Homo sapiens: one gene and its partners. The protein of the gene in region 1 interacts with the protein of each later gene in a biochemical or structural test. Each region holds a gene or a part of one and is shown in the gene's direction. Other genes may lie near its edges.

The links.
Region 2: the proteins of SNAI1 (region 1) and USP37 form a complex in vitro, tested with the Homo sapiens proteins (2 studies listed by BioGRID, with this or other methods).
Region 3: the proteins of SNAI1 (region 1) and CTDSP1 form a complex in vitro, tested with the Homo sapiens proteins (2 studies listed by BioGRID, with this or other methods).

The regions. Positions count from the first base shown.
Region 1 is NC_000020.11:49,981,134-49,984,878, forward strand, and holds the start of SNAI1 (zinc finger protein SNAI1), read left to right. Parts: upstream 1-1,846; 5' UTR 1,847-1,926; coding exon 1,927-2,008; intron 2,009-2,690; coding exon 2,691-3,218; intron 3,219-3,745. UniProt on the Homo sapiens protein: Involved in induction of the epithelial to mesenchymal transition (EMT), formation and maintenance of embryonic mesoderm, growth arrest, survival and cell migration.
Region 2 is NC_000002.12:218,449,751-218,453,495, reverse strand, and holds the end of USP37 (ubiquitin carboxyl-terminal hydrolase 37), read left to right. Parts: 3' UTR 1-3,245; downstream 3,246-3,745. UniProt on the Homo sapiens protein: Deubiquitinase that plays a role in different processes including cell cycle regulation, DNA replication or DNA damage response.
Region 3 is NC_000002.12:218,398,015-218,401,759, forward strand, and holds the start of CTDSP1 (carboxy-terminal domain RNA polymerase II polypeptide A small phosphatase 1), read left to right. Parts: upstream 1-1,853; 5' UTR 1,854-2,076; coding exon 2,077-2,143; intron 2,144-2,388; exon of another isoform or gene 2,389-2,473; coding exon of another isoform or gene 2,474-2,939; intron 2,940-3,549; coding exon 3,550-3,698; intron 3,699-3,745. UniProt on the Homo sapiens protein: Preferentially catalyzes the dephosphorylation of 'Ser-5' within the tandem 7 residue repeats in the C-terminal domain (CTD) of the largest RNA polymerase II subunit POLR2A.

The DNA.
Region 1 (3,745 bases):
AAGGAAGCCAGCGTGAAGATCTAGGAGCAAGAGACGTAGGGGAGAGGAGGAAGAGCAGCAGGTGCCAAGGTGGGAAAGGTCTGGGATGTTGGAGGAACAGAAGGAAGGCTGGGGGTGGGATCCTTGTGCATGGGGGAGGGAGAGAGGCTCAAGCCAATGTCAGCTGGGGTCAGAGCAGCGGGGCCGAGTTGGCTGAGGAGAGGACTTTGGCTTTTACTCTGAGACAGGCGCATGGGAGGGTTTGAGCAGAGGAGGGGGTGATCTGGCCTCACTTTGGCTTCAAGCAAAGGATCCTGATTGGAGCTAAATTGACACGGGACGGGGAGTATTCCGCTTAATGACTGCTTACTGCCTCTGTCCCCCACCCTACTGCCCGCTCTCCAGCTAGAACCAGGGGAGGACGATTTTGTTCACGGCTGTCACACCCGGCACCAAGTGACTAAACAGACAGTAGTTCTGCCCTTCAGGTTGGTGGTGGTGGTGGTGTGGGGTGCTTATAGGTTTTTATAGTCTTCCTTCACAGGTGGAAACAAGAACGGTGAGACCTGTGAGGTTTATTTCAGAGCCACCCCCGGGCCTGGTACGCCTCCCAGGGAAGCTGGGGTGGGGGTGCAGCTGCCCCTCACTTGGGCCCACCCCACATGCATTCAGTCAGGGCCCCTATGGAGCCGTGTTACAGCCTTTAGACACAGGATCGAGGATCTTCACGGGGTGAGGAGACACGCCCGGCCCATGCCTTCTTTCTCCCGCCAGCCTACAGGGATCTTTTTCAACGAAACTCTAACCAGGTCCCTCCTCAGCTGAAAATCCTTCGGTGGCTCCCCAGTGCCCTTGAGGCAAAGTCCAAACTCCTACGAGGCCCTGGGGCCCAGCACATCTGACCCCTCCGGGCATGCCCATCCCACCCCATCCCTGGAAGCTGCTCTCTAGGAGTTACTCTGAAGCAGTTGCCACTTCTTCCCTCGGGCCTTTTCCCTTGATAATTCTTCACTTCCTCTGGGAAGTCACCCCGACCCCCTGTCAGGTGACCCGCCTCTTAACGGTCGCCGCGTCCCGTCTCTCCCCCACCAAAGCACACTTCCCTTTGCATTGTAATTATCTGTTTACTTCGTCTGTCTCCCTCACTGGACCAGAAGCTACCCTTCGGGAGAGGCTCTGAGTGTTCTGTCCGGGGCTGTGCCCTGGCCCCAGGTACAGTGCCCCACACGTGCTGGGCGCTCCGTAAACACTGGATAAGGGAAGGAACGGGTGCTCTTGGCTAGCTGGGCCAGGCTGCTTTGCAAAAAGGCCGTGGCATTTCAAGCCGCCGAGAGCCACGTGCGGTGTCCCTTTCCTCGCTTCCTCCCCAGTGATGTGCGTTTCCCTCGTCAATGCCACGCTCTCCAGGCGCCAGCCGGGCGGAGGAAATTTCCGCCCCCTCCCAAGCCCGAGGCGGGGGCGGGCGTCGGAAGGTCAGGTGTCCCGGCCGGCGCGCAGCGCCAGGGGGCGTCAGAAGCGCTCAGACCACCGGGCGCTGAGCCGGTGGGCGCGCGGCGTCCTGCCGGGGTCCCACCTCGCAGAGGCCTCGCTTCGCTCGACGTCCCGCCCCGGACAGCCCCAGCACCGGGGACGACCCGCGCTGCGCCAGCGAACCCCGCCTCGGAGGAGTCCCCGCCCGGGCTCTCACCGCCACGCGGCGCGAGCCCGGCCAGCAGCCGGCGCACCTGCTCGGGGAGTGGCCTTCGGCGGAGACGAGCCTCCGATTGGCGCGGAGGTGACAAAGGGGCGTGGCAGATAAGGCCCCGCCCCTCCCACCCCCCACCACCCCCCCGGAGTACTTAAGGGAGTTGGCGGCGCTGCTGCATTCATTGCGCCGCGGCACGGCCTAGCGAGTGGTTCTTCTGCGCTACTGCTGCGCGAATCGGCGACCCCAGTGCCTCGACCACTATGCCGCGCTCTTTCCTCGTCAGGAAGCCCTCCGACCCCAATCGGAAGCCTAACTACAGCGAGCTGCAGGACTCTAATCCAGGTGCGTTGGAGGGGTTCTGGGCTCCAGGAGGTTTGGGGGAGACAGGCGAAGGCTGCGTGGGGGGCACCTGAGGGAGGCGGCCTGCCTGAGCCAGGATCGAGTCACAGGATGTTTTGTGGACCATTGCGGGCTCGGGAGACCGGGCAAGTGGGTCCCCAGTTCCGGGGATCTGTCTGGGTGGTTGGGGGAGTGCCGTGTAGAGGGCAGGGGTCTTCAGCTTGGGGGGCCTTTGTAGCCGGCGAGAGGCGGAGGAGCTCCGCAAGAGGGGAAGGAGAGGAGGCCTGTGTCAGGAGGGCCCTCTGGACGCTGCTGGGGAGAGTCCGGAGTCCAGAGGGTTGAGGGGAGGGGTGGGGAGACGAGATGTGTGTGAGGAGGGGGATTGGGGCAGGGTGGTGGCTCCGGGGCTGGGATGATGGGGTTCTGGCCTCAGGCTGGAGACTGGGGACTTAGGAGAGGGAGATCAGGAAATGACCTCCTTCAACTGGGGGTCCTACGTGTGAGAGACTCAGATTGGGTGACCTGGGCGAGGAGGGCAGGAACCTGGTCTGTCCTGTGGATAATTTTTTTGATCTAATTATGTATTGAGAATCGGCCCCACCCAGCCCCTGGCCAGCGGTGGGCTCATGTTTGTTGATTGAGTGAATGATTTAATTAACGCCTGACTCTGCTTTTTCTCCCTCAGAGTTTACCTTCCAGCAGCCCTACGACCAGGCCCACCTGCTGGCAGCCATCCCACCTCCGGAGATCCTCAACCCCACCGCCTCGCTGCCAATGCTCATCTGGGACTCTGTCCTGGCGCCCCAAGCCCAGCCAATTGCCTGGGCCTCCCTTCGGCTCCAGGAGAGTCCCAGGGTGGCAGAGCTGACCTCCCTGTCAGATGAGGACAGTGGGAAAGGCTCCCAGCCCCCCAGCCCACCCTCACCGGCTCCTTCGTCCTTCTCCTCTACTTCAGTCTCTTCCTTGGAGGCCGAGGCCTATGCTGCCTTCCCAGGCTTGGGCCAAGTGCCCAAGCAGCTGGCCCAGCTCTCTGAGGCCAAGGATCTCCAGGCTCGAAAGGCCTTCAACTGCAAATACTGCAACAAGGAATACCTCAGCCTGGGTGCCCTCAAGATGCACATCCGAAGCCACACGCTGCCCTGCGTCTGCGGAACCTGCGGGAAGGCCTTCTCTAGGCCCTGGCTGCTACAAGGCCATGTCCGGACCCACACTGGTACGTGCCCCTCCAGGCGCCCCCACCGTTGCTCTCTCTGGCAGCTTTTGTGAATCTGGGCTTGCTGTTCTCATTCCCAAAGCTGTGGACACTGAGGCCCCGAGTCTTCTAACTTCTAGCTCAAGTTCCAGGGCCTGGCTCTCTGGAAACGTTTGGCAGAAACTTTCTTCATCAGCTAAGCAGATGGGCAAAGCAGACACCTTCCCAATCCCCTGCAGCCTGTTTCTCAGCCAAATGGGTCGGAGCTGGATATGGGAAAGGTGCAACCAACACCTTGCTGTGGGGGCCAGGTGTGAAGGGGCCCACCCGGCCACACCCTCTCCCGGGTCCGCCCCCTCCCTAGCCAGACAGGATGTTGTCAGACCCCCCGCCTGGCTCTGAATCCTTCTTTGAGAACTTTCTCAAAACTTAGGCTGATGTTTCTCTTCTGTGAGCCTCATTTTCTCTATCTTTCAGATGGGCATGAGAACAGCTTTTGGGGTTTCTATACAGGCTAAATGCAGGAATGCATATGGGAAGCACCTGGC
Region 2 (3,745 bases), on another chromosome or scaffold:
TATTCTTTCGTGTTTTTTCTTTTATTATAAACAAGGGGATTATTCTTTAGTTCTCAGAGGTAGGGACAAAACCACATCAGGTTTTCAGAAGGAAAAAACATTTAAAAACCCACCATCACATGAGAGAATCACTTGAACCCAGGAGGCAGAGGTTGCAGTGAGCTGAGATCGCATCATTGCACTGCAGTCTGAGTGACAGAGTGAGACTCCATCTCATTAAAAAAAACGAAAACAAAAACAAAAAAAACACAAACCATCATCACAGAAGATGCAACATCTTTTCTGAAAGATTGCCTTAAGAGAGCTCCAGTCCTACTCTTGGAACTTGGATGTATTCTAATGTAGTAAACTATTCTAAGTTTTCATTCTTTGAATTATAAATGGCCTCAGCAGTTTTGCTCAACTACTGATAAATGCTTTGCCTCCTACCATCTACCTATATACCTTATTGTAATGAATGTTCCAAAATGGTAGAGTGGTAGAAAACGCCAGAGTAGTTTAGAGCAGAGGAAAATATTTGTTTTAAAACTAGCTTTAAAGTTTTGTTTCATTTCTACCAGGAGCCTCTTTGGTTTGGTTTGATTTTGCTTGGAAATAATTGGTTTTCTTATAAATGAGTGAAGCGGTGATAAAATTCTTTGGCTAGTTATTAATTCTTTTACGTGTCTTTGCATTTGAGAGGCACTGTTAAAAATTATTGGGAAAGATTTAAAGTGCAGGCTGCAATTAAAACATGGAGAAAAGTAGAAATAATGCCATAAGTCTAGATTGCCTCATGAAGCAGCCTCATTTGAATTGCTTTCATAGCTTTCATGTGTGTATGGTTTAGAAGTACACTTACCTCAGAAACCTGATTTGATCTTCATGTCTTGGGCAGGAGTTGTTGAAAATAGGTTATTGGAATATATAAGTTATCTCACTGCTCATGTACTTGCATGTTTGGGACTCAAATTTTACTTGATGTCTGTCCATTCTTGTGGCCCTATCAGCCTTCTCCTTCCTTTACTCCTTTAATCTACTTCTTTGACTACCAGTGGAGATTTCAGCTGGACTATGTTGATGGGGTTTGTTGTTGTTTTTGAGCTGGCTGTATATATTTTAAAATTATAAATAGATAATATATTATTTTTTGCACATTGTGATCAGTTTGCCCAGAATTGGGGATGGGGCAGTTAGCATGTTGGGGCCAGGAAGGGACAAGTTAGATAAGGACTGAGTGCTTCCGTTGCAGGCAGTTTGCACAATACCTAATTAACCTTCCTATTGAAAATACCAAATGTGTGGTTACATTACTTTAAATGACATTGAATTGGAACTTGATGGCAATTAGTTCTAGATACAACCTTTTGATCTTTGTTGGAATTTTAAGGGAAAAATGAACTAAACTTCATATTTGTTGATTTTAATCACCTAATAGTACTGAAGGTTGGAAAGTTGCATGTGGCTGGATGCTGTTAATTTCTTTAATAGCCATGACTATAATTTAAGCCTATGAGAAGATAGACTGTTTCGTAGGGATATATTCACATGTGTGTGCACACTCATGAGTTTTGTCTCAGCAGGATAGAATAAGCAAATCCATGAACTGGTCTTCTATTAATACTTTGATTCTAAAAATTATTTGTTTACTTGCTATGGTCTGTTCATTCTGGGCCTAACCTTAAAGGCTCAATAACAAATACAACAAATGTAAATATGTTTACATTTTAAGACATATGCAGTGGTTCTTACAGATCAGTTAATTAACTCCAGAAAGCAAATGTTAGACTACACATTTATTTTTCTCCTTGATCAAGTATAAAATTCTGAAACAGAGGCTTTAAAATTTAAAACCTCAGCAAAATAATCCATGAATTTACTGATTCTTCTGTATCGTGTGTAGTTACCATTATGTAACTATACACACATACAGCTACGGATATAATGAAAATTATCTGCAAACACCTAAATTAAAGAGAAAAAAAAGTAGTTTGTAAACTCATTTGTGATCTACTGAAAAGAGGTTATATTAAAGCAAATTAAAATATTTTCCTTCTCTGTCCTCTGAAATGACTGCAGTAGATACTCTTAGTTATCCCATTTAGGGTGGTTGGAGGGCCTTTTTAATTTAATTGACCCCCCGAGGTGGTCTTTTGTTTTAAACAGGGGGCAACAGCTGGATCTCCAAGTACATATGGATTTTGTATATATAGGAGATTTTTAGAAAAATCAACAACCTAACACCAGATTCAAGTCACATAAAAGTGTTCCAATAAAATGGATGGATGTCTTTTTCCTCCCCATTTTGCTTTATACTGAGTAATGCACTCTTGCAAGTGTATACAAAAACTAAATAGACTTCTGCCCTCCAACATCTTTTTATTGCATTACTTCAAAATCCTAATTTTGTCTCTACTGATATGTCTTATTAACATCTGAAAAAATATATATTTTTTATTGGAAAATTCTAATTTGTTAGGCCTTGAAAGTTTTGTGACAATTATTTTGCTGTGTTTAACCACAATCATTCACCTTATGGCATGCTTTGATTACTAGACTTCAGGCAGTCTCATTCATTGTATCATACTTACACACAATTAGTAAGTTGTCTCCATGTGTGCTATATGTCTGAGGTGTATGGAGTTTTTATTTAAAAAGTGTGCCAGTCTGAATATAAGCATTTGATTTTGTAACATTGGACTTTTCTTAAAAGTACAGAGGTTCAAAGTATAGGTATGTCCATTGGCATAAGAATAGAGTGGGTGAGGGTCTGGACCAGGTTCCAGGTTGGTCCAGTCAGATGCCAGAACAAAGAAGAACAGTCAACTAAACTGGTCTACTTCAAAAATAGTGGGCCTGTGTGAAGAGTGAGACCACATGTGGGTGTGCACACCTCTTGTCCCCAGGTTTCCCTCCCTTTGAGCTTTTCTTTCCCTCCCTAACTTCTCTGGCCTATTGTCATTGTTGTTTCTTTAAACTTAAGGAGAGAAAAACAAAAATGAGATTCCTACACTTTGCCTAATTGAGCCACTACCAGGTTTTCTGGCAGCTGTGGCCACATTATTTGTGAGATGATTTTTTTTCTTTATGTTCAGAGTGACTTTTGATTCTGATTCTTTATGTTTTGTATGGAGCGGCACTTTTATCTGTGTTTTAGCAGAACTGTTCCTCTGTATCCTTTACGGTTTTTCTTTGTTTTTGTTTCCTTTTTAAATTATGCATAGAGTTTTTTTGTGTGTATGAAATTAAAGCCTTTATTAACCTTCTTTGATTTGACTGTTATTTCTGAAAAGGACACATTCTTGCTGATACTTGTAACAACCTGTTCAAAGTTGTGGAAATCACCTTCTGTTGGCTTTCTGACATGGACTTCCTTGCAGCACTGTTACTTCTTAAAAGGAACAGAATGGCAAACCAGTGTCTGGCCGTAGTCCCCATTGATTCCTGTTATTTTCATCTGAGGAGCCTGTGAAGCTTTGCAGAGGCTTCTGGGTAAGTTTGTAAACCTAGCATTGGCCTTCACTAGGCTCTTGCTTTGCCTCATTATTAAGGGTTGGGAGAGGGAGTGAAGTAGCATATGCATTTCATACTTGCCTTTAGGTCTCAAGCCTAGCCCCAGTGGAAGTGCTGCTCTCACTGGTACTGTTTGGAATTTGTGAAACCTCTTAAGAGGGTAGTCTTGTGGACCATTCAACTCTCCTTCAGCCCTTTAACTTACCCACTGAGTAAGGCAGTAAGGAAAGTATATGTGAAAAGGAAAAGCTGT
Region 3 (3,745 bases), on another chromosome or scaffold:
GTGGGGACAGCCGGCCAGGTACCAGCCCCCTTCACAGAGGGAGAGGAAAGCGCGCCACCCAACCCAGGCCAAGGGCGAGGCCACGACTCCACTCAGTCCCTCGCCACACGCTTCCTTTTGGGGTCATGAGGGCCCCGCATCCGGAGATAAAGCCGAGGCCCCACCCAGGGGGCCGGACCGCAGGGGAGACAGATGTCCCGCTCCCAGGCTGGAATCCCGCCTTTGCCCTTGCCGGTAGACCCGAAGCACGTCGCTTCCTTTCTTGAAACTCAGTTTCCTCATCTGTGAAATGGGTTAAGAAGGAGGCCGTTCTAAGGGGTAAATGAGATTAGGGGGCGCAGCCAGAGCAGGCCTAGGAAAACGCCAGCAGCGTGTGGCGATCACGGTGATGAAGCGCAATGGTGGCCGCCCCGTGGGCTACCCAGGAGCAGGAGGAGGGCCGAGGGATCCAGCCCGGGGACCGGGGTATCAGTCCCCGACAGTCCCCTCCCGCCCCTACTCCCAGCCTCAGCGCACGAAGCCGCCGCGCCTTCTGGCAGACGCCGCTCCCCTCCCTTCCCCTCCCGGCCCCCGCGCGGGGCCTCCCCTCCCCGGCTCCCCCTCGGCAGGGCCTGGCGGACGTGCGCCGCGTCGCACCCGGCGGCCGGACGGGACAGGACGCGCCCGCCCCGCCCCGCCACGGAGGCCCGCGGGAGAGGGGGAGGGGAGGAAGTGCCGAGGGGTGTTTGTCGGGCTTGGCATTATTAATTTTTAAATGGTGAACTTACAAAATAGTAACGACGAGTGAAAAGAACTTCATAAACGAGGAAAAAGACCAACCCGCAGACCCACGGCGCGCACCACGGAGGGGCTTGCAGCGAGAAGACAGGGACCTCCGTTCCCAAGTGCCCAGCACTGCGCCACAGGCCGGGTGGAACGGGCCTTGAGGGCCTCTGGTTTGAGGTCCCCCACGGTCGGGCTTTGGGCCCACCGCGTGCGGCGCCGTGCTGGGCTCCTAGGATCGGCAGCGAGTCCAGTGACTCCCACCGCACCCCCAGTAATCACAGGGCGGCCGTCGACCGCGGGCAGGGGAGGGGGTCTGGGAAGGCCCCTGGAGAAGGTGGCATTTCCTCGAGGTCGGTGGAATTTGGCTACGCGAAAGGAACAGCGCGTACGAAAACTTCAGGCGGGAACGCGCGGTGGCCCGTGCGCGGCGGGTAGACGTGCGGGGCCCCGGGTGGGGCCGTGGGGAGAGGTCGGCAGGGGGCTTTCCCAGGGCAGAGAGTTAGAATTTCACGTCCTACAGACCGGGGGCACCTCGCCCTGGGGCTGCGGGGGGCGGCGACCGTCCCATTCAAGAGCGTGATTCTGAGGTTTGCACAGCTGTTTCGGGCCAGCAGAGCCTTCGCTGGCTCTTGACGTCCTTGCGAGGTGATCTCTGCGACCACCAGACAGGAGAGAAGACCCATTTTACAGATGAGGTAGTGCTATCTCCAAGTCCTCAACGAGGAAACCGAGAAGCCTCTAGTCCCGGGTCTTCAGAAAACGCAGAGGTGGAGCCGCGCCGCACTCGGGCACTCCCCGGCGTGGGCGCTCCCGGCGGGCGGGCCTTGGCCGAGGGCGCTCGGCGGCCTGGAACGGTGAGCCGGGTGCCGGGCCTGCCACGCAGCCGCAGAGACTCAGCCCCGCCGGCGGGCGGCAGGAAGGGAGGCGACGCCCCCTGGAGCGCGGCAGGAACCCGGCCCGGCCCGCCTCCCAGTCCGCCTAGCCGCGCCGGTCCCAGAAGTGGCGAAAGCCGCAGCCGAGTCCAGGTCACGCCGAAGCCGTTGCCCTTTTAAGGGGGAGCCTTGAAACGGCGCCTGGGTTCCATGTTTGCATCCGCCTCGCGGGAAGGAAACTCCATGTTGTAACAAAGTTTCCTCCGCGCCCCCTCCCTCCCCCTCCCCCCTAGAACCTGGCTCCCCTCCCCTCCGGAGCTCGCGGGGATCCCTCCCTCCCACCCCTCCCCTCCCCCCCGCGCCCCGATTCCGGCCCCAGCCGGGGGGGAGGCCGGGCGCCCGGGCCAGAGTCCGGCCGGAGCGGAGCGCGCCCGGCCCCATGGACAGCTCGGCCGTCATTACTCAGATCAGCAAGGAGGAGGCTCGGGGCCCGCTGCGGGGCAAAGGTACCGGGGCTGCGGGGAGGGGGCCGAAGCCGGGGCGCCGTGGGAGGAGAGAAGGGGCCGGGATCTTCCCCAGGGGAGCCGCCGCCGCCGCCCCGGGCGGCCGCCTTAGCTGTGCCCGAAGCTCCCAGCCCGAGAGGGAGCAGGGAGAGAGTTTGAACTCAGAGGAGGCTCAGAGACGCGGGGCGGGGCCTGGCGCCTTTGGGGCGCTCCTGTTCGCTCGAGGTGAGGAAACTGAGGCAGGAATAGAGAGGGAACTCTTCGGGGGTTTCCTGGCAGGCATTGCGTGGTGCATGGGCGCCCCCCCACCATTGGCGCCAATGGGGCTGGGAGATGGGGGAGCTGAGGAGGGCGCCTATGGGCCACCCGCTGAGACTCCGCCCCACCCCCCACCCCCACCCCCCCGGGCTGCGGTCCGGTAGGGTCTTGGGAGGGGGCGCCGAGGTGACAGCAGGCTGGGGAGGCTTGGAGGGATCTCCCGCCAACACACAGCTACGTTCCCCACAAACTTCGCGTCACGCGTGGAGGCGCCGACCCCCTCGGAGGCACAGAGAGGACGGCCGGCACTTCCAAGAGTCGCTTGGCGCCCGCGGGGAGAGTCGTGCGCCTAGTGGGCACGCACCACCCCGCAAAGCCTCGCCGCCCCGACGAGGCTGCGTCCCCCAGCGTGGCTGGGCCGGGGTGGGGGGGTCTGTCTTCTCCTTTTCCCCGTGTGGACCTCAGGATCTGGACGCTGCCCCCAGGTCTGCCCACCCTCGCCTGGGTCTGGCTGCCCCGGAACTGAGGGCAAGGTGGAAAGGCTAGTTGCAGGGGGCCGGAGGGGGGTGGGGTGGGAGGGGTATCTGTCAATCAGGCTGCTGGGCTCCAGGTCGGAGGTCTGGGCGGGGCAGGGCAAACAGATGGCCACTGGACACTGGCCCCAGGCCGCGGGACTGCACCCCTGCCTCTGGGCCCAGCCGCAGTGAGGACTTCGTACCCACGGGGGTGGAGAGGATGGAGGGAGGGCAGGGGTGGACTGCCCTGGGTCCCAGGCCCTGGCTGTCCTGAGCAGGGGTGCTCAGGTAAGGTGGGGTCAGGAGGCACCGCAATGGGGCTGATCAGCAGCAGTCATGGAGGCTGTGAGAGGCAGGGAGAGAGCACCCCAGGACCTCCTTCTCCAGGCCACGCACTCCCTATGTGGGCGCCTTAATACCTGCTAGACCTATTTGTCTGGGAGCTGCAGGAGCCTTGCAGTTGATTGTGGAGCCCTGACAGGGGCGTTTCAGAGAAAGTCAGGAGCTGCCTTCGTGTGTCTGGATGAAGGGGCCACGGCAAGATCCTCCTGGCTCAGGGGTTCACACCTGGGCACACATGCAGGATTCTGCAGGCCAGTGTGCACCGAGCCTCCAACTTGTGCCTCCCTACTTCAGGTGACCAGAAGTCAGCAGCTTCCCAGAAGCCCCGAAGCCGGGGCATCCTCCACTCACTCTTCTGCTGTGTCTGCCGGGATGATGGGGAGGCCCTGCCTGCTCACAGCGGGGCGCCCCTGCTTGTGGAGGAGAATGGCGCCATCCCTAAGGTGCGTGGGGGCCAGGTGGGGCCACGGGGGCACCTGGACTCAGTCTT